2 linked regions of the Homo sapiens genome follow. The protein of the gene in region 2 purifies or fractionates together with the protein of the main gene of each other region. This does not show direct contact. Each region holds a gene or a part of one and is shown on either strand. Other genes may lie near its edges.

Region 1 (10,208 bases), on a different chromosome or scaffold from region 2:
TTGAGCCGAGATAGTGCCACTGCCCTCCAGTCTGAGCAACAGAGTAAGATCTTGTCTCAAAAAAAAAAAAAAAAAAAAAAAAAAAACTTTGAATCTTCAAAGACCTTCCTTTTCTGTTCTCATTTATCAGGTTGTCTTTTGGTTGCCAGTATTACATGCTTTAGTACTACCTGACCAAAAAATATAAACAAACTATAGACATAAAAAACTACGTACACTTCATAAGGATAATTATCTTCCAACAATTACAAAGCTCATTAAATTTCACAATCTACAAAAATAGTTTTATCATTTCTATCTAATTACCTTAGTATGGCAAGGATCAGAATAATATTTAAAATTCCCAGGAAGGCGCTAAGTAAAACTGGTGTTGTATACATGTTTATCTGCAGTTTAATCACATCCCATGTCACACCTTTTTCTCCAAGGAATGTAAAACAAGTCTGAAAAACTTATTAAGATAAAATTTTCACAGATGAATTATTATATGAGAAGCATAGGATAAAAAAATGAAAAAGACATTTACAACAGAATTGGGAACAATGTTATGGAATCATCCTTCTATATCATGCATTCTCAACAGATGGAATTGGTTCTTGATGGGGGGTCAAAAAATTTCCTCTTTTTATGTATAAAGCAGGTATGTACAGATATACATATGGTACATAAAAGATATATGACACATCTGTGGCACTAAAATTTTATGGGGTAAAGAGAGTAGGAAAAAAATACCGAAAAAGGCTCCTTAGGGAGACAATAATGAAAAAAAGGTTGTGAAACACTGATTTACATGCATTCACAAGGAATTGTATCTTACATAACTTCTCAGTTTTTTACAAAACATCTCCATAGGCAATTTAAATTATACAATTTCTTCCAAAAATTAATTATAAAGGTTTAATCAGCTTCATTATAAGAATGAAAATATCATATTTTAGACCAGATATCTTAAATATTATTCTGTATATGGTATATATATATATATATATATATGTGTGTGTGTGTATATATTTATTATCATTTGACCATAGTATTATATACAAGTAAAATGAAAAAAAAAAATTATTTCATCCAAAAGCATACATAATCCACCTTAGTATTTGAAGTTTTTTTTAGTGATTTTAAACATTAGTTAGAAGTGTTTTTGGACTGCTGGATAAAGCACTCTAAAGAAATATGAAGTGGCAAAATCTAATTTGGATCTGTGGCAAAAACTCAATTGGAAGAGTACTGGTTTGCTCTTCTGATTTAGATTCAATATGTGGCTCTATAGTAATTCACATATAACTCTAGGGTGAGGACTAAAATATTGCACCTACCGTACTTAGAACAGTGACTAGCATACAGTAAGCACACAATAAATGTTAGTGCTTGTTGAGGGCTTATTATTGGAAAAGTCATCGAAGCTTTTCAGGCTTACATTTACTCATCTATAATGCAAAATTTTTAAATGACATAATCTTTAAAATGCTTTTAAGGTGGTAAAAAATATTTACTAAGAACATAAGTCTATACCAGGTATTATGCTAGATACTGAGGGTAGACTGGTAAATAAAGACTCAAACCATGTCCTCATGTACTTTACAATATAGTATTCAAGTTCAATTATTCTACATTTGTGCTTGTATTTGTTTCAGGGTACAAAACTGAAATAGTAGATTTTGGTGAACAGTGAATTAGATTCCCTTCTGTTGAGCCTTTTCTTTTTGGCTAAATAGAGGAACGTAATGGAAACTGGGGGTGGGAGATGGGGTGTTAATGATGAAGTAAGCTGAGTTGGATTCAAACTGATAATATTCATAACTTCAATATTCAAAATATGGACCAATTATATGGTTTTTCAATATTATTCTAGGCATGAAAATGACTGATTCTTTACTCAGCAGAAAATTAATTTGCCTTGAGGAAATACTAAATCTCATTAATTTTTTTTGAGACAGAGTCTCGCGCTTGTTGCCCAAGCTGGAGTGCAATGATGTGATCTCAGCTCACTGCAACCTCTGCCTCCGAGTTCAAGCGATTCCCCTGCCTCAGCCTCCCAAGTAGCTGGGATTACAGGTGCCCGCCACCACACCTGGCTAATTTTTGTATTTTTAGTAGAGATGGGGTTTCACCATGTTGGCCAGGCTGGTCTCAAACTCCTGACCTCAGGTGATCTGCCTTCCACAGACCCCCAAAGTGCTGAGATTACAGGTGTGGACCACCACGCATGGCCTCACTAATTTTTTTAACACTCAGCAAAAGGGTGACCTTGGACAATTTACTTAGATTCTCTATGCACTGGCACTCTCAACTATAAAAGGGGACTAATAGCACTTAATTTAGTGGATTGGCATCAAGATAAAATGAGTGTAGCCTCATTCCTGGATTAAAAAAAAAATTAGCTTTCCTCCCTTTCCCTTCAGCTATGAGTTTTTATACTTGGGTTACACTGAATATTTAAGCCTCAAAAGTTTTCCCAATTCAAATTCAAGTAATGACATGTGAAGAACACCTACCTGGACCTAGAATAAAACCTAATGCTTGACACATGCTTATGTTTGCCATGGAACTTGTTCTTTCCTGAAGGGAAGTAGCACCAGCAGTATATGATCTAACAACTGCTACATTTCCTTAAAAACAAGACACAATAATCCAAAGTAAAAGAAAGTATCATTCAGCTTATAAAATTCAATCCAATTTGACTTTATACAGAAGAAGAAATCTTGGTCAACAGTACAGTCACTGCTTCCTCTTTATGATCACACAAAGCATGTAAGGTATTTTTATTAAGCAAATGCATCAATTAATGGACCATACTAGTTTTGGTAATATGAAAACAGTTAAAGATATCAATGAGTGAAAAAATGGTATCATAAGAAAACCAAGCCGGGCACAGTGGCTCACATCTGTAACCCCAGCACTTTCAGAGGTTGAGGTAGGTGGATCATTTTGAGGTCAGGAGTTCAAGACCAGCCTGGCCAACACGGTGAAACCCCGTCTCTATTAAAAATTCAAAAATTATCCACCTGTAGTCCCAACTACTCAGGAGGCTGAGGCAGAAGAACTGCTTGAACCCAGGATGCTGAGGTTGCAATGAGCCAAGATCACGCCACTGCACTCTAGCCTGGGCAACAGTGAAAAAAAAAAAAAAAGAATATCAAACTTACTTAGTACTAAAAAAGCACTGAGTGAATGGCATACCATTGATTACTACAACTGTTTTTAAAAGAAAAGTATTACAATATTACAAACTCTGTATGCATAGACATGTAATATAAGAAACAGAAAAAAATGCACTAACAATTTTACTGAAAATTTTCATTGAGTACATTACATTCAAGAGACTCTGTTAGGGGGCATAGGATATTTTTAAAGTATCATTAATTCTTTCTAATTGCAAAAAGTTTAGGTTGGGAATGGTGGCTCATGCCTGTAATCCCAGCACTTTGGGAGGCCGAGGCGAGTGGATCACGAGGTCAGGAGTTCAAGACCAGCCTGGCCAAGATGGTGAAACTGCGTCTCTACTAAAAATACAAAAATTAGCCAGGTGCAGTGGCAGACGCCTGTAATCCCAGCTACTCGGGAGGCTGAGGCAGGAGAATTGCTTGAACCCAGGCAGGTAGAGGATGCAGTGAGCCAAGATTGCGCCACTGCATTCCAGTCTGGGTGACAGAGTAAGACTCCGTTTCAAAAAAAAAAAAAAATTATTATCTGGTTAGTGAGAAAGGATAGAAACAGTACAATACTATAAGCAAGTGCCAGAGACATGTCAGAGAAGAAAAAAATCTCTCAAGGGGCAGGGTAGCCCAAGATGGCTTTGTGGAAAATGTGGAGCTTGAATTGGATCTATTTTTGTTTTGGGTTTTTTTTTTTTTAGATGGAGGTCTCCCTATGTTACCCAGGCTGGCCTCGAACTCCTGGGCTCAAGAGATTCTGCTACCTCAGTCTCCTGAGTAGCTGGTATTATAGGCACGTGCCACCACACCTGGTTTAAACTGAATCTTGAAGGATGAAGAATGATGAGAACAGAAGAGAAACTATAGGTAATGAGAACATCATGAGCAAAGGCAAAATGATAAGAAAAATATTTGTTTACAATGAGAAACATGTATGTTGAACTGTGAAATATGAGTTTAAAAGGGGATGAGACCAGTTAAAAGTGAGCCATAAATGTCAGAATGAATGTGAATATGACACAACCAAACATATACATACAACCTTACCTGCTCCAATTCCCAACAATCCACGAGCAACCAGCATGTAGTATTTATTATGAGAAGCTGGGATGTGGAGATATGCATAGAGGCAGTTGGCTGCCACGGAAATCAAGATGGAGACAATAAGAGGCTCTTTTCTTGGTCTATAATTAGACCATAAACCAAATATAGGTGAAGCTACCATTTGGCCAAGACTATATGAAGCAATAACCCAGCCCAAAAAACTTGTATCAGCTGTCGGATCAATCTGCAGAAAAAGGTACAGTGCTTTAAGAATTGTTATCCAAGAAAAGTTTAAAACTAAATACATTTGTCATACCATGTAAGATTTCCTATCAAAAAATAAAAACAATTCTAACGTATAAGTTTTATAACACTATTACTTATAGTAAGGGATTCAAACTTCTGACAATACAATTAAATGTGCTAACAATAGACTGTACACAAGGGAAAAATGCTTGGGAGGCTCATTTTTAAGAATGACTGGAAATTTTTGGTTCATATAAACCTTGGTAAGAAGATAATCACACACACTATATACGCATATAGCAATAACATCATGAAAAATAATATAAGCTATTCTTTAATTCTTGTAAATAGAATTCTTTAGACTTATGCTACCCTATACGTTAAACAGCCATTAGCGCTGTAAATCATTTTTTTTAAAAAAACTAGGCACAAGAGTCAAATGCATAAAGAAGATAATAAAAACACAAAAGATGATAGACAATTATCTCAATAAACCTGTTATAAATTCTTCCGTTCTATATAGACCACTCAGTATTCTACCACTTTAAAAGGGTTTACATATCATGATGAACTTAAGGGGAGAACCAAATGACTACAACTCAGAAAATAAAATACTTTCAGAAAAATAGAAAATGTTAGCTTAGAAAAGGCACTATTGTTTATTTTTATTTTTATTTTTTTTTTGAGACAGGGTCTCACTCTGACATCCAGGCTGGAGCGCAGTGGTCCGATCACGGCTCAGTGCAGCCTCGACCTTTGAGGCCCAAGTGATCCTCCTGCCTCAGCCTCTTGAGTAGCCAGGACTACAGGTATGCACCACCATGCCCACCTAATTTTTTTATTTTTGTAGAGACAGGGTCTCCCTATGTTGCCCAGGCTGGTCTTGAACTTCCCGCCTCCAACTCTCAAAGCAATCCTCCTGCCGCGGGAGGGAGGAATTCTCCCACCTTGGCCTCCCAAAATATTGGGATTAGTGGCATGAGCCACCGCACTCAGCCAGATTACTTTTTTTCATATGTGGTAGGCTAAGCCAGGCGAAGTGGCCCATGCCTGTAATCTCAGCTACTCAGCAGTCTAGAGTAGAAGGATCCCTTGAGCCCAGGAGTTGGAGGCTGTAACACACTATGACTGTACCTGTGAAAAGCCACTGCACTCCAGTCTGGGCAACATAGGAAGATTCTATCTCTAATCTTCCTATTTAATGGCTTTTATTAAATTTTAGGAAATAAATTTAAACAAATATAGATAAGTGGTAGAACAATTTAATAAGGAAAACTATGACCTTTTGTTCCCTAAAGATATTTATTTATTTATTTTATTTTATTTATTTATTTACTTTTGAGACGGAGTTTTGATCTTGTTGCCCAGGCTGGGGTGCAATGGTGCGATCTCAGGTCACTACAACCTCTACCTCCCAGGTTCAAGCGATTCTCCTGCCTCAGCCTCCCAAGTAGCTGAGATTACAGGCATGTGCCACCACGTGGGCACAGCTAATTTTTATATTTTTTTTAGTAGCGACGCGGTTTCACCATGTTGGCCAGGCTGATCTCTTAACTCCTGACCTCAGGTGAGCTGCCTGCCTTGGCCTCCCAAAGTGCTGGGATTGTTGGTGTGAGCCACCGTGCCTGGTAATTCCCTAAAGATATTTAAAGTGAAAATATTTAGGTGCGTTTTTCTTTATGAAAAAAATAAGAAATAATATGCAAAAGTATAATGATACATAATATTTAAAGTTCTAGCCGTTAAAATATCTTTCATTTTAGGTACTCTGGTTTTCATTTTCTTCCTGTATTACCTTTAGCTTCATTTGTCATCTCTACTAAAATAGAAAATAATAATTTCATGTTACATAAAATTTTAATTTTCAAAAAAGCAATGAAAACTCAATTTTAATGTTAAATGTGTAGTGGTTTGAAAGCAAAACTTTTTTTTTTTTTTTTTTCTGAGACAGGGTCTGGCTCTGTCACCCAGGCCAGAATACAGTGGCATAATCTTGGCTCACTGTAACCTCAAACTCCTTTGCTCAAGAAATCCTCCCAACTCAGGCTCCCAAGCAGCTGGGACTACAGGGAGTAGCACCACCATACCCAGATAACTTTTTAAATTTTTTTGTAGAGACGAGGTCTTATATCGTTACCCAGGCTGGTCTTGAACTCTTGGGCTCAAGCAATCCTCCCAACTTGGCCTCCCAAAGCGCTGGGATTACAGGCACGTGAGTCACAGCACTGGGCCTGATAGCAAGACTCTTTAAAGAGTTTTCAAAATATCTGGAGAAAAGAGAGTACTTTTCAAAACTCAACATAGTATGCTGAGTAGACCTAATCACTACTAATATCCTTCTTTTGAGAATTTTGACTAAAAAGACTAAATGCCAAGAAATTAAGAATTTTGATACATGAAAATATCTTTTTAGTAGAGAAGACGTTGCTCCAGAATTGTGCCAATTCCAATGACTACCAGCATGGAAAGAATTTTTAGTGTAATGGGTAATAATTTCATGTAATATTATTTTCAAAATAGCAATGAAAATATGGCACTAAACCAGTAAAAAGTAAAATTTGTATTTCTTTTCTTCTTATATTCCTTTAAAAATATATTTTAGGAGAGCATTTTCAAAAAGTAGAAATTCGTAAAAACTGGGCTGGGCATGGTGGCTCACACTTGTAATGCCAGCACTTTGAGAGGCTGAGGTGGTGGGTCACCCAAGGTCAGGAGTTTGAGACCAGCCTGGTCAACACAGTGAAACCCTGTCTCTACTAAAAATACAAAAATTAGCTGGGCGTGGTGGTGCACGACTGTAATCCCAGCTACTTGGGAGGCTGAGGCAGGAGAATCACTTGAACCTTGGAGGTGGAGGCTGCAGTGAGCCAAGATTGCATCACTGACCTCGAGCCTGGGTGACAGAGCGAGACTCCATTTACAAAAAAAACCACAAAAATTAAAAAAAAAAACAATCCTAACAATCTAGACAATCTAGTAGGGGAGTTAAGTAAACTCTCTGTAAATACAGTGTTAGGACACTCCATATTAAGGGCTAATGATAAAGGGAAACGGGAGTATACAGGAAAAGCTTCTGACCCAAATTGTTGTGAGGGACAGTGAGAGAAGCCTTTCCAGGCCAGGTGCAGTGGCTCACATCTGTAACCCCAGCAACTGGGGAGGCTGAGGCAGGATCACCTGAGGTCAGGCGTTCGAGATCAGCCTAGCCAACATGCCGAAAACCCACTTCTACTAAAATTATAAAAATTAGCCAGGAATGGTGGCGGGTGCCTGTAATCCCAGCTACTTGGAAGGCTGAGGCATGTGAATCGCTTGAACCCAGGAGGTGGAAATCCCAGCACTTTGGGAGGCCGAGGTGGGTGGACCACCTGAGGTCAGGTAGAGATCAGCCTGGCCGGTATGGTGAAACCCCGTCTCTACTAAAAATACAAAAATTAGCCGGGTGTGGTAGCTGGCGTCTGTAGTCCCAGCTACTTGGGAGACTGAGGCAGGAGAATCGCTTGAACCCTTAAGGCAGAGATTGCAGCGCACCAAGATCACGCCACTGCATGCCAGCCAGGGCAACAGAGCAAGACTCCATTGCAAAAAAAAAAAAAAAAACAGAGAGAGAGAGAAGGCTTTCCAGAGGAGGTGACACTGGAGCAAAACCTTGAAGAGTGAATAAAAGACAGTGAGGAAGGAGAAAGGGGAGAGCAAAAGAAAGATGGAGAGAGGAAAAGCATTCCAGTAAAAAGGGAGACAAATGTGTAAAGACCTGAGGAGCCTGGGTTCATCCAAGTACCATGGATTTATCTAATAAATTGTTGGCTATACATCTAATATGGGACAAAGTTCAGAATCTAGGATAAAACACACATATGCACGTGTGAACACACACACACACACACACACACACACACACACACTCTCTCTCCAACCTCATAGAAAAACCAACAAGGGATAAACTGATAAGGAAGAATACACAAAAGAATTTAAGAATAAGTCATTAGAGTTAAGAGGAAAGCCAGGATAGAGAAATGTCACAGAAGCTAAGAGGTGGTGCCATGGTTTGAATGTGTCCCCCAAATTTCATTTTTTGGAAATTAATATTTAAATTAATATTATTAAAATATTGAAAGGTAGGACCTTTAAGAAGTGACTGTGTTACATTAGGTAGCTAGTTGGGTATGAACAGGGCAGGAGAGGTCTCCCCTGCCCCTCACATGGGGAGTGTGGAGAGACTGTTAGGTGATGGTCAGGCGGTTGTTAACGCTCTCTAAAGTAATTATTGGTCACAGCTAGTGCTAGGAAAAGGCAGCCTCCTAATAAATAGAAAACACCTGGTAATTAGCAGCTTCCTGATACGATCTCAGGGGTGGGGTGAGTGGGGAGAAGTAATGCAAGACCCCAAAATTATGCCAGTGTATGAAATCCCAAGTCAAAAGGTCAAACCGCAGGCTTGTCTTTCAAGTTGCCCACTTGGCCCTCTTCCAAGTGTACTTTCCTTCTTTTCCTTCCTTTCATTCTTGCTCTAAAGCTTTTTAATAAATTTTAACTCCTGCTCTACAACTTGCCTCAGTTTCTCCTTCTGCATTATGTCCTTTACTTGAATTATTTCTTTCAGGAGGCAAGAATTGAGGTTGCTGCAGACCTGTACAGACACAGATCTGCCAACTAACAATTGGATCATGAAGGCTGTGCCCTCATGAATGAATCCATTTATGTATTAATGGGTTATCATGGAGTGGAACTGGTGGCTTTATAAGAGAAGGAAGAGAGACCTGAGCTAGCATGCTCAGCCCCTTCATCATGTGATGCCCTACACTGTCTTGGGACTCTTCGGAGAGTCCCCACCAGCAAGAAGGCCCTCACCAGATGTGGTCTCTCAAACTAGGACTTCTCAGCCTCTGTAACGGTAAGAAATAAATTCCTTTTTTAAAATAAATTATCTGGTTTAGGGTATTCTGTTATAAGCAACAGAAAACAGACTAATACAGGTGGTTTCAGGAAGTAAGGAGAGGACAACAATGTCAAATCCTATCCAGGTGTCACCTAAAATAAGGACTGAAAAGTATTTCGTGATCAACAATTAAGTAATTGGAAACCTTACAAGAGCAGTTTCAGGACAGCAGAAAAGTTAATCAGATAGCAGTAGGTTAAGGAGTAGGTTAGGAAATACAGAGGAACTCTTTAAGAACCTTTACTAAAACATTGTTATAGATGAATTATGTAACCAACTTATATACTGATTTTTAGTTAAGTTTCTTCCTGGAGATTTAAGATAGAACTGACAGGACCTGATGATCAACTGATGTTAAGCTACCTAACAAACTTACATATTCATGTCACCCCCTCTTCCCCTTCTAGTAATAACAGCATCAAAAAATACATATGTTCTAGTCTTTACAATGTTACCTGATAGCCCAAATTAATTTTATGGGAAAAGCGTTAAATTATTCCACAAAAATATCATTTACACACTTTAGGAATTCAGACTATTACTAGTTTCCTTTTTATTAGGGAAGAGGTAATGATGGAATATGAATGTGGCTTCTGAGTAGGTGACCATACATCTACCTTTGCCTGGGACTATCTGGGTATGATCCTATTTTTCCTTACGTAGCAGTCTCTTCACTACAAAAGTGTTCTGGCTTGCACAATAAAGCATATGGTCACATTACTTATAAGCCTCTTTTAAGGAACTATTATCTCATTATTCTTGTAAAGATTAAACCATAGAATACCAAAGAGACTCTTTAGAAAATGCTTAACTACGTAAGA
Region 2 (16,226 bases):
CACAGGCAGATTGCTCCTTGGGCCCTCTGGTGTTCTATGAAATTTCTCAGGCCCGCCTACCCCCAGGTGGAGGTCAGAAAAGCTCACAGAGGCAAGAAGGAATCCTGGAGCCCAAATATAGGGGTGGCATCTCCAGCCCCGGAGGGCGGTGTGTCTGGGGCCGGCCTCTCAGGCCCCTCCTTTCCCAGCTTCCTCGGGCCAACTCCCTGCTCACCCCGCCGGAAGGAGAGCCTGGTGGGAACACCGGGCCCACCCTTGGCGAGGACGGGGCAGTTATGGAACCTCTAGCAGCCCCGTACCCTTCTTGGAGGATGCCTCTGAGAAGCCATAGCCAGGGATGGAAGGGCAGATGACTTCAAAAACGTGCTCATCGCTCAGGCCATGGTTCTTGGGGTCAGTCAGGAGTGGGATGATCTTATAAAACTCGTAGAAAGAGCCGGGCCAGCCGTGCACCATCAGCAAGGGCTTCGGGGTATGGCCTGCGGGCAGCTGGGGGGGCTTCACGTGGATGAAGTGGATGTCCAGCCCTGGGGGGACAGAGCACAGTCAGGGTGGAGGGAGAGAGAAGACCCTGCACGGTCAGGCTCTGGCACCCCCCAGAGCCTAGATATTGAGTCCTGCCACCCTTAGTGCCCCCGCCGCCCCTTCATGGTATTGACAGTAATAAGGGCTGACACTGGTTTCACACTCACACTGTGCTCCAGGTGCACAGATGTCCTCACTCAGCCTTCACAACCTCCCTGCAAGGGAGCTACGATTATTGCCTCCCGGTTTCCTTAGAGGTGCCCCCTGACAGCTGGGCCAGGTCTGTACAGCCACTGCTGGGTTTCCAGGGCTCAGGACAGCTCCTGGCTCACAGCAGGCCTCCATAAATACTTGTTCAATAATTTAAAATCTGGAGGGTAGGGAGAAAGCCCCACGTATCCAGCAATACAGGATTAATCAAGTATAGTTTGACAGTATACTGGAGTCCAGTACAGTCATCTAAACTGACAAGGTAGATGTATATTTATTTAACATAGAAAACTGATCAGAAGATATTGCTGGGAGGTAAAAGCAAATGATCAAGTCATATCCATTGTGTGACCCAGTTTTTATAAAAAGTCATCTATGCTTATACTGTACTTATACTATGTATTGGTGAATTTTAAAAGTCTGGGAGGATAAACTCCAAGAATGTAAAAAGCAGTTCTCCTGAGCAGTAGATTCCAGTGCTTTTAATTTCTCTTTGAGTTTTATGTACTTTCCAATTTTTCTACAATGAACAGGTATTAAATGCATAATTTTTTTCATACACATTGACAAAATGTCACCTTTTTCTGATTACCAAATGATATTTTCTTTAAAGTGGAGTATTTTTGGGCCTGGTGTGGTGGCTCACGCCTGTAATCCCAGCACTTTGGAAGGCTGAGGCGGGTGGATCACCTAAGGTCAGGAGCTCAAGACCAGCCTGGCCAACATGGTGAAACCCCGTCTCTACTAAAAATACAAAAAAATTACCCGGGCATGCTGACAGGCGCCTGCAATTCCAGCTACTCGGGAGGCTGAGGCAAGAGAATCGCTTGAACCTGGGAAGCAGAGGTTGCACTGAGCCGAGATCACACCACCACACTCCAGCCTGGGCAACAGAGCAAGACTCCATCTCAAAAAATTAAAATAAAATAAAGTGGAAGATTTTTTTTTAAGTGCAATGCTGAAAACATCATCATAGCCAAGGGCAGGTGAATGGATTCTTGTCTCCTCTGGACTGACTTGGGGCCTCTGCATATCAAAAGAAGGCAGCCCCTTCCCAGGCCAGTGCCCTGGACAGCACCTGGGGCCTTACGGCATTCACAGTGAGGGCGGCTGCCATGCTTGGAACTCTCTGCCACCAGGGCTGGTGCAGTCAGCATGGTCTAGCTAATGTTCTGTTCTGTCGTTAATATATTATACAAATAATACATGTTTACTGTAGAAAACTTAGAAAACACAGATAAGCCAAAGGGGGAAGACTCACATGTAATCCCACTCTCTAAAGAAAACATGGTGTTGTCTGTCTAAACTTTATTTTGGAACAGTTTTAGATTGCTGAAAAACTGCAAAGAATCCAGAAAACTCCCATATACCTCACACCCACCGGGTTTCCTCCATTATTAATATTTTATGTTAGCATGGTACATTTATTACAATTAACGAACCAGACTGAGATATTATTAACTATAAAGTCCATTGATTTCCTTAGTGTTTACACTTTTTATTATATGGCGAGAACACTTAATATGGGTCCTACCCTTTTAACAGATTGTAAGTGTCCAACACTGACGGCGCTCTGCTGTACAGCCCATCTCTAGGATGTATTCGGCTGGCAGGACTCAAACTTTACACAGCAACGATCAGCAATGCCGTTTCCCCTATTCCCCAGCCCCTGACAACCACCCTTCTCCTCTCTGCTTCTGCTGAGTTTGACTATTTCAGATTCCTTCTATAGGTGGAATCATGCGGTATTTGTCCTGTCCCTGGCTTACTTCACTTAGCATTATTTCCTCAGAGTTTATTCATGTTGTCACACATTGCAGGATTTCCTTTTTTTTTCTTCTTCTTTTAGAGATGAGGTCTCACTGTGTTGCCCAGGCTGAAGTGCAGTGGCACAATCACGGCTCACTGCAGCCTCAACCTCCCAGGCTCAAGTGATCCTCCCACCTCAGCCTCTCAAGTAGCTGGGACTACAGGTGGGCAACACCATGTCTAGCCTATTTTTGTTATTTTTTTTTGTAGAGAAGGGGTCTCGCTATGTTGCCCAGGCTGGTCTCAAACTACTGGGCTCAAGCCATCCTCCCACCTTGGCCTCTCAAAGTGTTGGGATTACTGGCGTGAGCCACCACACCCGGCCAGGATTTTCTCCTTTTTAAAACCTGGATAATGCTGGTATCTACACACAACAAAATATGAGCCAGATTTCCTCAGTTTTTCCCCTGATATCCATTTTCTGTTCCAGGATCCCATCCAGGACTCACACACCACTGAGCTGTCATGTCTCTTTAGACCCTTCTTGGCTGTGACAGTTCAAACTTTTTAAAAAGACTTAGAGAACATAACTTTTAACAAAAATAGAACCATACATACATTCTATTTTAGAATCTCTTTTTTTTTAACTTAACAATGTATCCTGGGTGTCCTCCTATGTTGCCAAATTTACTCCTATTCTAAAGGACCAAGGCCAAGAACAGGCCTCCAGCCCCGGGCAGGGTGCCAGAACCACACATGGGTAAGTCCACGATGAATTCAATGCTGGAAACTGGCTCTTTTGGAGCCGTTGTACCTGAGGGAGGTTTTGTACCATAAATGCCCAATGTCAGCTGGGTGTGGTGGCTCACACCTATAATCCTGATACTTTGGGAAGCCAAGGTGGGAGAATTGCTTGAGCCCAGGAGTTTGCGATCAGCCTGGGTGACATGGTGAGACCTTGTCTCTACTAAAAATGTAAAAAAAAAAAAAAAGGAAAGAAAAAACAAAGGCCGGGTGCCGTGGCTCATACCTGTAATCCCAGCACTTTGGGAGGCTGAGGCAGGTGGATCACGAGGTCAGGCGATCAAGATCATCCTGGCTAACACGGTGAAACCCCGTCTCTACTAAAAATACAAAAAATTAGCTGGGCATGGTGGCGGGCGCCTGTAGTCCCAGCTACTCGGGAGGCTGAGGCAGGAGAATGGCGTGAACCTGGGAGGCGGAGCTTGCAGTGAGTCGAGATTGCGTCACTGCACTCCAGCCTGGGTGACAGAGCGAGACTCCGTCTCAAGAAAAAAAAAAAAAAAAAAAAAAGCCTAGTGTGGTGGTGCATACCTGTGGTCCCAGCTACTTGAGAGGCTGAGGTGGGAGGATCGCTTGAGCTCAGGAAATTGAGGCTGCAATGAACTGTGATCACACCACTGCACTCCAGCCTGGCTGACAGAGTGAGACCCTGTCTCTAAAAAAAACCCAGTCTCATGAAGAACCCTGAAAGGGTCCAGTGGGGTAAGGCTGGCAGCTGCCAGGATGGAAAGGGCCCTTTACTGCCTCCTGCCTCTGGGCCTTTGAACATGCTGTTCCCCTTTCTTGGACCACCTTCCCCACACACCTGGCAAAGTCCCACTCATTTCAGCTTAGATGCCACCTCCTCCAGGAAGCCTTCCCTCACATTCAAAGGAAGATTGTGGGGCTCATGAAGCTCCCAGAGCCTCCTCCTTCAGAACACCGCCACTATGTGCTGGAATTGCCCCTGAAGAGCCTATGAGCTGTGAAGGAGGGACCCTGTCCTCTCTATGCGTCCCCAGCCCCAGCAGAATGCCTGGGTACAGCAGGCGCCCTGTTAGTTTCTGCTGGATGGACACTGAAGAGCTGGGACAACACAGGGATCCAAGTCAAACTCAAGGAAGCCAGGCAATTTCGTGCCAGGAATCCAAACAGGAACCTATGGTAATTGCATACAGCAGTTTGGCTGGGATTAAGTGGCTTGGATCCTCTTGTTAGGCTCATAATAGAAGATATCAAATTACTGTAAAGAATACAGCAACACTCAAGAGAAGTCCAAATTTGATCCAAAAAATCATTCCAGATTTTTTTTTTTTTTTTTTTTAGTGTTCTTGGCTGAGCTCCAGGATGGGCTCTAGTTCCAGGACACACACCACTGGGATTTGACTTAGCTTTTCTCTGGCTCATTCTCCCACAGGCCTGGCCTGCTTGCATCAGAACAAGGATGTTTGCTGCCCTGGCACCTCCAAGTCGAGGTTTCCGTCCATCCTTCCTTTCTCCCTTTTTTTTTGAGATGGAGTCTTGCTCTGTTGCCAGGCTGGAGTGCAGTGGCGCGATCTCGGCTCACTGCAACCTCCGCCTCCCTGGTTCAAGCAATTCTTTTGCCTCAGCCTCCCGAGTAGCTGGAACTACAGGCACGTGCCACCATGCCCAGCTAATTTTTGTATTTTTAGTAGAGACGGGGTTTCACCATGTTGGCCAGGATGGTCTCGATCTCTTGACCTTGGGATCCACCCGCCTCGGCCTCCCACAGTGCTAGGATTACAGGTGTGAGCCACCGCACCCGGCTTTTTTTTTTTTTCTTTTTTTTTTTTTTGAGACAGAGTCTTGCCCTGTCACCCAGGCTGGAGTGCAGTGGCGCAATCTGGGCTCACTGCAAGCTCCGCCTTCCGGGTTCACGCTATTCTTCTGCCTCAGCCTCCCAAGTAGCTGGGACCACAGGCGCCTGCCACCACGCCCGGCTAATTTTTTGTATTTTTAGTAGAGACGGGGTTTCACCAAGTTAGACCAGGATGGTCTCGATCTCCTGACCTTGTGATCTGCCCGCCTTGACCTCCCAAAGTGCTGGGATTACAGGCGTGAGCCACGGCGCCCAGCCTGTTTTTTTTTTTTTTTTTTAAAGACAGAGTCTCATTCTGTCGCCCAGGCTGGAGTGCAGTGGTGTGATCTCAGCTCACCACAAGCTCCATCTCCTGGGTTCACGCCATTCTCCTGCCTCATCCTCCCGAGTAGCTGGGACTACAGGCACCCGCCACCACACCTGGCTAATTTTTTGTATTTTTATTAGAGACAGGATTTCACCGTGTTAGCTACGATGGTCTCAACCTCCTGACCTCGTGATCCACCTGCCTCAGCCTCCCAAAGTGCTGGGATTACAGGCGTGCGCCACCGTGCCCAGCCTCTCTCTCTTTTTTTAAGAGATGGGGTCTTGATCTGTCACCCAGTGCAGTGGTGTCCTTGTAGCTCACTGCAGCCTTGAATTCCTGGGCTCAAGCAATCCTCCTGCCTCAGCCTCCTGAGTAGCTGGGACTACAGGTGCATGCCACCACACCCAGTTAACACTATAATTTCAATTTCCTTTTTTTAGGAACTTTAGTTTATCTGACTGACCAACATGTCTTTCATACACTTTAAGTAATTCCTAGAATTTTAACAAATTAAAATCTTCACTGTTCCTTGAAAAGGCCAAATTATCTTAAAACATTAAAAATAAGATTCCTAACATGTACAATTTCTTCAATATAAAAAATTAACAAGCTGGGCACAGTGGTGCTCGCCTATAGTACCAGCTATTCAGGAGGTCTGAGGCGAGAGGATTGCTTGAGCCCAGGAGTTCGAGGCTGTGGTGAGCCATGATCACGCCTGTGAATAGCCGCTGCACTCCAGCCTGAGCAACACAGCAAGACCTTGTCTCTGAAAAAGATTAATTGTATGGCAACCCACAGAGTGGGAGAAAACATTTGCAAATATAAGAGATTTTATTCAGAATATATAGAGAACTCCTAAACCCTAATAAAACACCCAAAAAATGGACAAAAGACATGAACAGACATTTCTTCGGAGAAATTACAAAGAATCCAATAAGTACCGCATAAAAAATGCTCAACATCAGTAATCATTAGGAAAATGCAACTCAAAACCACAATGTGATACCATTTCATACCCATTAGGATGACCATTACCGAAAAAAAGAAAGGAAAAAAATATTGGCAAGGATTTGGAGAATCGGGATTCTGAGGCATTGTTGGGTGGGAAAGTAAAATGGTGCAGCTGCTGCGGAACGCAGTATGGCGGTTCCTCAGAAAATTAAACGCAGAATTACCGTATGATCCAACAAGTCCACTTCTGAGTATAGATCCAAAAGAACTGAGAGCAGAGTCTTTTCTTTCTTTGAGATGGAGCCCAGGCTGGAGTGCAGTGGCGCGATCTTGGCTCACTGCAACCTCCGCCTCCTGGCTTCAAGCAATTCTCTGCTTCAGCCTCCAGAGTAGCTGGGATTACAGCTGCCTGCCAACACACCTGGCTATTTTTTGTATTTCTAGTAGAGATGGGATTTCACCATCTTGGCCAGGCTGCTTGAACTCTTGACCTCGTGATCTACCCACCTCAGCCTCCCAAAGTGCTGGGATTACAGTTCTGAGCCACCCCACTTGGCCTGGGTCTAAATCTCATCTCCATCCTTCCTCTCAAAGATTGCCACATCATTGGACTGGATGGTGCATTTCTTTGGTTTTTAAATTGCATGTATGTGTTCCTGCCTAGCTCTAAAGATGGACAGATTTGTTGTGACTGCAATATTTTTGCATTTAGTAAGGTTACAACGTATAAGTACATCTCAGTCACCTATAATTGGGTTCTGAATCTCTCCAACTTTATCTGACTGTAAGTCACATTGTGGAAGAAGGCTGTTCTCATGACATACATCCCTCTCTGGCTGGCGTTTTGCAAACATACCTTCAATCTTAGTCTTGAAGTGAGGGTATCTGTTGAGAATCTCCACCTGCTTCTTCCAGTCAAATTCATTCCGCCAGTAGGAGATGACTTTCTTCAGGTAGTTGGAGTTGAAGCCATAGTGGAAGCAGCTGTCCTCCAAAGGTGGGGTGAAACGGAACTTATCGATCCTCTGGTGTAAGTCCTGGAGCAAAATTCAGGACCCCAAGTTGAGAGGGATGGGAAGGACAGAGCACAAGAGCAAAGTCTGTTTCCAGAAAACACAGCAAACCCTGCAGCCACAAGATACTGCCCTCTGGGAGTGGCAAGGCAGTTTCCCACATCACTGGCTACTCCCAAAGCGGATGTGTTCTTCACTTCTTCCTTCTTCACTGTAGACTTCGCATTTCTTTTTTCTTTTTTCTTTTTTTTTTTTTGAGATAGGGTCTCACTCTGTTGCCCAGGCTGGAGGGCAGTGGCGTGATCTCGGCCCACTGCAACCCCCACCTCCCAGGTTCAAGCCAGTCATGCCTCAGCTCCCAGAGTAGCTGGGATTACAGGTGTGAGCCACCATGTCCGGCTAATTTTTGCATTTTTAGTAGAGACGGGGTTTTGCCATGTTGGCCAGGCTGGTCTTGAACTCCTGGCTTCAAGTGATCTGTCTGCCTTGGCCTCCCAAAGTGGTGGGATTACAGGTGTAAGCCACTGCGCCCAGCTCATCTTTTACTCTTTAAGTGTATACACGATACTCATCTTTAATTTACCCAGGCGTCTCTACAGCGGGAGTCGGCAAACTTTTTCTGTAAAGGGCCAGATAGTAAATATTCTAGGCTTTGCAGGCTGCAGTGACTCCACTGTCTTCATAGTGTGAAAGCAGCCACAGCCAATGCACAGATGAATGGGGGTGGCTGTGTTCCAATAAAACTTTATTTATGGACAGCCATAGCCAATGCACAGATGAATGGGGGTGGCTGTGTTCCAATAAAAATTTATGGACACTGAAATCTGACTGCTATATAATTTTCACGTCACAAACTATTATTCTTCTTTTGATTTTTTTCCCCCTAACTATTTAAAGAGGTAAACACTATTCTTGGCATGGGCGCTGTGCTAAAACAGGTAGCAGGCTACATTTGGTCTATGGGCCTGGTTTCCTGACCCCTGATATACAACATTGAATGATACATTATAACTGAGTTGGGATAAAAATTACAGGCCAGGCCCAGCACGGTGGTTCACGCCTGTAATCCCAGTGCTTTGGGAGGCCAAGGCAGGTGGATCACTTGAAGTCAGGAGTTCGAGACCAGCCTGGCCAACATGGCGAAACCCCATCTCTACTAAAAATACAAAAATTAGCCAGGCATGGTGACAGGTGCCTGTAATGCCAGCTACTTGGGAGGCTGAGGCAGGAGAATCGCTTGAACCCAGGAGGCGGAGGTTGCAGTGAGCCAAGATCGCACCACTGCACCCCAGCCTGGTGACAGAGCAAGACCCTGTCTCCAAAAACTAAAAAATTTACAGACCAGGAGAGAGGGTGCAAGTCTCATTGGCATGTATTAGGCTAAAAGGCCAGCCCCAGAGGGAGGAAGTTCATGTCAGCTTAGAGAGCCTCTCAAGCATCACCATTCCCAGGCTTCTTCCCAAGTGTTTCAGTTACCCCCAAACAGATTTTGGAAATCTCAGACTCCCTTAGGAGTCTAATTCCCTAAAGGAGCTTTCCTTAGGGCTCAGCCTTGGCCCTAAATAGCAAGGCTGCAGCAAGCAAGTCCTACCCAGGGAGCCTCAGCCTGGTTGCTCTTGGGTTTAGCCCAGCTTCTGCTTTTAAATCTCTTCCTCCTTGGAACTCTCATGACTTTTATCCATGCTTTTTGTGACATTTATCCTTATGCATCTGTTTCTTTTTTTGAGATGGCATTTCACTCTTGTTGCCCAGGCTAGAGTGCAGTGGTGTGATCTTGGCTCACTGCAGCCTCTGCCTCCTGGGTTCAAGGGATTCTCCTGCCTCAGCCTCCCGAGTAGCTGGGATTATTATAGGTGCCCGCCACTATGCCCGGCTAATTTTTTGTATTTTTAGTAGAGACGGGGTTTCACGATGTTGGCCAGGCTGGTCTTGAACTCCTGACCTCAGGTGATCCACCGCCTCAGCCTCCTAAAGTGCTGGGATTAAAAGCGTGAGCCACCGCACCTAGCCTATCTTTATTTATCTTTTAGTCTACTTTTCTTTGTGCACATTCCTTTTCTCATTCACTGGACTGTATGCTGTTGGACGGAAGGGGCTGTCTCTTCTCCCAAGCACTCACTGGGCCTGCACACAGTAGGTGCTCAAAACCCACGGAATGAAAGAAAGGATTGGCAGGGCCATGCCAGGCCTGCCTACCGTCCTGTCCCCCACTCAAGCCTTGCTCCTCCCCGAGAATGCATTCTCAGTTCACCCCACCTGCCCAGTCACCTCCTTCCTGACTCTATCCCTGTGCAGAGGAGGGGCAGCAGCTTCAGGATTAGATTGGACTTCAAATCCTTCCGCATGTTAGCTAGGCCGCCTTGAACGAGTTGCTTTATGCCCCTGAGCTTCAGCTTCTGCATCTGCAGTTTGGGAACAACAATCCTCACCCCGCGGGATCACCGTAGGGATTGAATGTGACCAGGAATGGCTGACACACAGCCGGTGCCTAACCAGTAGCATCCCTGCCTTCTCAGTGCTTCCTGGGTCTCTGACGGGAACCTGCTCACTTTCTCCCACAACCTCACTCCCAAGGCTTCAGGCAGGGCATAGAGGAGGTGATGACAGCTGCTTTCTGTGACCTTTGATACAGGTTACCCCATCTCCTGCCTGAGCACTGCTGGGCCTTGGGTAGGGAAAGGAGAAGAGAGAAAGTGGGAGGGCTGGGCATCCCTCTCCAAAGCAACCTGCACCTGCCCAGCAGAGGAAAAGCAGACTGAAACACACTCCCAAGTAGGATGGACCATTCCCAAGCCCCCGTCCCCTCCCGCATCTGGCCTAAGACCCAACCCCTGTCTTCGACACACCACCCTCTCCACTGCCCAGCCCGGCCCGGCCCAAGGTGCCTTACGTGGATCTCCTCATCTGACGTTTCCACCTTGAAAGGGCGGATGCTGTCGTCCTCCCTGGCTGCGGACCTCGTGCCTGGCCCCCACCACCCATCTTCAAGTGGCAAAGTTTCCTCTTTGTCCCGGGAGATGAACCAGTAGATGGCAAAGCCCAGCACTGAAGTGAGGAGGATTTCTAGCCACATGGCTCCTGCAAGATGAGGGGAAGCCATTAACAACGGAGCCCGCCCAGCCCGGCCCTGACAGCCCAGAGACTCTGATCCCCAGCAGGCTCTTTCCTGCTGCGCTCCAACCCTGTCCCTGATTTTATTTACACTTGACCTAATATATACATATTATATATATATATACACACACTATATACATATTATATATAGTATAAATATTATATATATATGATCTAGAAAAATGGAAAAACAACAGACAATGAGACAAAATCACCCACAATCCTACTAAGCTTTGAAAACTGTTCATCATCCTGGGAAAATAGGAACCTGGTTTGGCTTCTGCACAGCCCTGGGTAGGGGGTTTTGGGAGCTACATTTCTGAGGCCTCATGTTGTTTTTTTTTTTGAGATGGAGTTTCACTGTGTCACCAGGCTGGAGTGCAGTGGCACAATCTCAGCTCATTGCAACCTTTGCCTCCCAGGTTCCCACCATTCTCCTGCCTCAGCCTCCCGAGTAGCTGGGACTACAGGCACGTGCCACCACACCCAGCTAATTTTTGTATTTTTAGTAGAGATGGGGTTTCACCATGTTAGCCAGGATGGTCTCAATCTCTTGACCTCGTGATCCGCCCGCCTCGGCCTCCCAAAGTGCTGGGATTACAGGTGTGAGCCACGGCGCCCGACAGCCTCATGTTTTTTGCATGTCTGAGAAGGCTTCTGTCCATGACCTCTGGGTTCCCTCCCCCAGGGGAGAGGAGCACCTTTCCTGAATGGTGGCCCACAGCCCCTGCTCTGTCCTTCTTGGAGAGAGGCTTATCCTCAGGGCAGACGGGGTAATGGGGAGGCCCAAGTGCTGGGAGAGTAAGTTCAATTTGGGGTTGGGGGACACTGCTAGGAAGCCCAGCCATGGCCACACAGCTTAGCTGTGTAAGAGCTTTATTGAAACATAATTCATATACCATACAATTCGCCCATTTAAAGTGAACCCTCCAGTGGTTTCTAGGATATTCACAGACATGTGCAGCCATAGCCACAGTCAACTGTAGAACATTTTCATCGGCACGGAGAAACTCCATACCCTTCAGCTGTCGCTCCCCTACTGCCCTCCACGTTAGGTCCTAAGCAGCCTCTAATCTACTTTCTGTGTCCATAGTGTTGCCTGTTACATTTCACATCAACTCAGTTGTCTTTTAATCCCCATTTGTCTGACTCCTGTGTCTTTTTTGATCAGAAGAGGAAGAAACCATAGTCTTGGCAAAGCACTATCAGGCAGATACCAGCCCAGCATTGTTATCTAGCTCTTCATCTTCCTCATTCCTAGGGAAGTAACCCATAGACTGTTCTTGTTCAGAGTAACCTGCATGAATATGCGGGCCGTCCTTATGCCTGAGTCAGAGGAGGGTCTCTAGATGCACTGCAGTTAGGACCCAGACGGAGGAGAAAGCATCGAGTTCTGACAAGGCCCCTGCAAACCACGCCCCAGCAGCGCCCCTCGCTCTGTCTTGGAAACCCAAGGCAGGAGGTGGTCCCTGCTGGGAACCCCACCACTTGCATGTCCTCCATTGGCTACATGTCAGATGTTTGGGACTCTGCTGGGGGGTTGCAGAGGCCCTGGAGTTTGCTCCTGTCAAGAGCTGCCCCTCTAAACCTAGAATTGGGCTACTGGGGGTCGTTCTATGAAATACTTGTCCACAGTGGTCCAGCGATAGAGCTCCAAACAGAAATCCACCCAGGGCGATGGCTCTCGCCTTATTCCTGCAGTTCTGTAGGAAATCTAATCAGGAAAATCAGCTTGGCACCCCCCACCTCCGCGTTTCTATCAGTGATCCCAGTGAACTCCCAGCTTCCCACCCTCAGGCCCTAGAGTCATCTCCAATTCTTTCCCCACAGCCCATCACCAAGTCCTCATGCCATCAGATTCAGCCCCCTGTGTGCCTCGCCCCCTCCCCTGGACCAGAGCCCTTATCACCCCACATGTGATTATGGAGACAGCTTTCAAGAGAGGAAACCCACAACCTCTTCTCTCATAGTCACCAGCATACTTCTTAGAACCGACTGCAGCCTTCGTCCTGGGAATCATGCCCAGGTGTCCACCCTTGAACTTCCAATCTATCTCCCTCTCTGGATTGTGAAACTCTAAAGTGCCTCAAGGTCTCACTGATCAACATTTACTCAGTCTACCATGTGCCAGGGGGCAGGCCTTCGCTATCCCTGCTGGAGACACGTGGGACACGTTGATGCATGTTCCATCTCCAGCCAAGCCAGGCCATTGCTTTCCCTTTTTTTTTTTTTTTTTTTTTTGAGACAGAGTCTCAAAGAGTGCAGTGGTGCGATCTCGGCTCACTGCAACTTCTGTCCCTGGGTTCAAGAGATTCTCGTGCCTCAGACTCCTGAGTAGCTGTGATTACAGGTGCATACCACCACCTCCTGCTAATTTTTGTATTTTTAGTAAAGACAGCGTTTCACCATGTTGGCCAGGCTGGTCTCAAACTCCTGACCTCCAGCGATCCGCCCACCTCGGCTTTCCAAAGTGATGAGATTAGAGGCACGAGCTGCTGTGCCTGGCCCTGTGGCTTTCATCTTTCAATCCCAAGCAGTAACAGTGCCTGGGCCCCAAGGACCCTATGTCAGCTGATCAGATGGGCAGCTGGGACCACACTCCCACAATAAAAACAAGGCAGGGAATACCTGGAAATGAGTTCCTCTTATTTAAGTAATTCAGAAAAGAAAAAACATGCATCAGCTTCTTTCATTTCCAGAAAGACGTTATGTCTCTGCCAGGAAATCCTGCCCTTTAAGAAGATGGAGAAAAGTCAGCTAAAAGCCCCTGCGGTATTGAAAGCAGGACTAGGGGTTAGGGACTGGGAGACACATGGGAGCGTGTGGGAGGCAGCCGAAGGCAGAGAGCAGAGCTTCCCCCAGCAACAGGAGCAGCTGAACACACTTCACTGGGCAGGCAGATCCTACCACAATAAACCATAGCTTGGGAAGGCAGGGCTGTGCCCGTCCTGGGCACTGCCTTGACCCACAGTGCCCAGCACTGGTGACTGGCCCAGCACAGCGAAGAGCTCCACCAATATTTTATGCACTAGAAGCTAGTAAGACACATTTTGCATGATGTTGTCAAGGAGGCTGCGAGCATAATATTAGAACAATAAAGAGGGATCACCCTCCCCAGTGAACTTTACAAACCACCCTCCTTACCTGTACCTCAGCACAGGGAGAAGCACTGCTGTCGCTTCCCTCTAGGATATAAATGTGCAACTTTCCCCTTTCTGGGCAGAAAGATCCCAGTGCTTTCACCTGTCCACCAGGCTCCACGTTCTCACCCTCTGATTACTCCTTGGGAAAGAGAGCTGTGGAGCTCTGCACCTGGCGATGCTCTAAGGGCCTGTGAGAGAGGCAGGGCAGGCTGCAGGCACTGGCCCCCACTCCCCACGGCCTTCTGACAATTGCACAGTCCTGCCAAGTCAGCCAATCTCATGTGTGCACAGCGTGGTTATCTCCCCTGGACTCTGCACAGCAAACTGAACCACGCTGACCTGAGAGATACAGGGCTGAAATGATCAGTGCTCGAGTCCCATCTAAAAGAAGGGAATCTGGGACAAGGGGCATTATGATGGCCCCCACCAGCACTACCAGGTGTATCACCCAGGAAGAGGAGGGCAAAGTGACAGATTCAAAGAGAATTTTAAAAACACGATCTCTTGCATTCTAATTAAGATAACAAGAATATTAGTACTTGCTTGGCTCAAGGATGGTGCCTTACAGCCACTGATCTCAGATTACAAATAGGCTCTACTGCAGTGTGTTACTTTGCCACCTAGTAACAGCCCTTTATTTAATAGCAGGTGGTTAATGCACCAAAGAAAAGTGTTCTTGATTAGCCTGGTGTGACAGCAGGTGTTGACTGTGTGGGGGTGGGTTTCCAACCCCGCTGCCGCCTTGCGCTCCCACATGAACAGTCCTTCTTCTTGCTGCAGGCAATATTCACTTCCACCAGCCCAAGCCCAAGGAGCCCACCCTGGGGAGGACGGAGGGGGTCACCACGGCTCCACACCCCCCCGTCTGCTTTGTCGGAGAGCTGGCCAGGCAGAGTGGCGCCCTCTTGACTGAGCCTCAAACCTTTGCTTTCCTCTTACTCCAAATAAAGCCGCCTGGCGAAGGAGCTCGGAGGCCTGATGGCAGCCTGCTGGGCGCTTGACAATTCCTAGACCCTGGTAAATGTAATCCATGGTACATGCAAATCCACCCACTAAAGAGCCACAACTCATCAAACTTGACTTTCCTTTTCACTTATTTAAGGCAAGAATCGGAGTAGGCAAGGGGCTTAGCCTAAATCACACTGCAGTTGTGAGGATTAGAATCTGTGGCCACAGCACTCACTCCTGGTCTGTCACTGGGTGTGTTGCACCCCAACTCCCCTTCTTGTTCCCTCTCAGCACCTGTTTGCAGCCTTGAGTCTTCAGGCCAGAAGGGACTCCTAGGGCACAGACGTCTCCCAGGCCTGCATAGCTTTTCTCAAAAAATGTAATAATAAGAAACAACACCCTCCCCTATCTGGTGGGTCAGCCAGTCCTGGGAAGGACTGCGGGGGCGGCGGGGGTGGGCGGTCTTAGAGTCTGACCAATGAGTCCAGGCACCCACTCTCTATCTGCCTAACCCTGCCCACACATTCTGCTGCAGTTCGAGACAGGGAGAATTGCAGATGCCCACCGCCCAGGCAGGGAGGATCTAGAGAGTGCCAGGCACCCAGCAGGCTGTCCTCAGGCCTCTGGGCTCCCTCGCCAGGGCTGCGGCTTTATGTGGAGTAAGGGGAAAGCAAAGGCTCGAGGCTCAGTCAAGAGGGCACCACTCTGCCTGGCCAGATCTCCGACAAAGCATGGGGGTGTGGAGCCGTGGAGACTCCCTCTGTCCTCCCCAGGGTGGACTTCTTGGGGTTGGGCTGGTGAAAGCGAACATCGCCCAGAGTGAGAAGGACTGCTCACGCAGGAACCCAAGGCGGCAGAGGACCTGGGGTGGGCTGGGGAGGGGGTGGCACTAAGCAGATGAGAACCCTCCCCTCCCTCTCATGGCCTCCCTCTCTCATGGCCACCCAGCACTCAAGAGGACAGAGCAGGGCTGCATCACCCCTACATCCACCGGGTGGGCCAGTTGATAAGTCACTGCCACTGGGCATGGAAGCTGGAGAGGAACTCAGCAGCCTCGAGTCCAAACCCCTGCTCTACAGCCAGGGAAAGAGGGGGCCGAGTGACTGAGTCTGGGGAAGCTTGATGGCCAACTTGGGTGATGCCATTTAAGGAGCCAGCCTGGGTTTCCCGGAGACTCCCCATCCCATGGCTCCCTGCAAAACAGCAACTCTGACAACCTTTGACTTTAGAAATGAAAACATCTTGGAGGTTACAATACGAGGGCTTTGGCCCAGTGTGGTAGCTCATGACTGTAATCCCAGTACTTCGTGGGGCCAAGGTGGTGAATCACTTGTGGCCAGGAATTCAATATCAGCCTGGGCAACATAGCAAGACCCTCATCTTAAAAAAAAAAAAAAGTAATAAAGGGGCTGCTTGTTTGCTTTCCTCTTTGGGTCGTTCAAATCTCGGCTCCACTGTTTACTAGTTGAGGGGCTCTGGGCAAGTTATGAAACCTCTCTAAGCTCAGTAGCTGCATCTGTAAAATGGGGATAATAATGTTGAACTACTTATTATCAACATGTGTGTTCCTTCCTCTTCCCCTAAATCCCTAATTACCGTGGAGCATCTCTGCCTTGTAACAGACCCCAGAGGAGCCCCTGTTC

What was found.
Region 1: the proteins of EPHX1 (region 2) and MFSD8 purify together in Homo sapiens (affinity purification with mass spectrometry; 3 studies listed by BioGRID and IntAct, with this or other methods). This does not show direct contact.

What each region holds. Positions count from the first base shown.
Region 1 is NC_000004.12:127,939,547-127,949,754, forward strand, and holds part of MFSD8 (major facilitator superfamily domain-containing protein 8), read right to left. Parts: intron 4,447-10,208; coding exon 4,206-4,446; intron 2,613-4,205; coding exon 2,499-2,612; coding exon of another isoform or gene 2,493-2,498; intron 452-2,492; coding exon 307-451; intron 1-306. UniProt on the Homo sapiens protein: Outward-rectifying chloride channel involved in endolysosomal chloride homeostasis, membrane fusion and function. Conducts chloride currents up to hundreds of picoamperes.
Region 2 is NC_000001.11:225,822,955-225,839,180, reverse strand, and holds part of EPHX1 (epoxide hydrolase 1), read right to left. Parts: intron 14,971-16,226; exon of another isoform or gene 14,878-14,970; intron 13,828-14,877; exon of another isoform or gene 13,637-13,827; intron 10,457-13,636; 5' UTR 10,452-10,456; coding exon 10,269-10,451; intron 7,403-10,268; coding exon 7,222-7,402; intron 528-7,221; coding exon 300-527; intron 1-299. UniProt on the Homo sapiens protein: Biotransformation enzyme that catalyzes the hydrolysis of arene and aliphatic epoxides to less reactive and more water soluble dihydrodiols by the trans addition of water.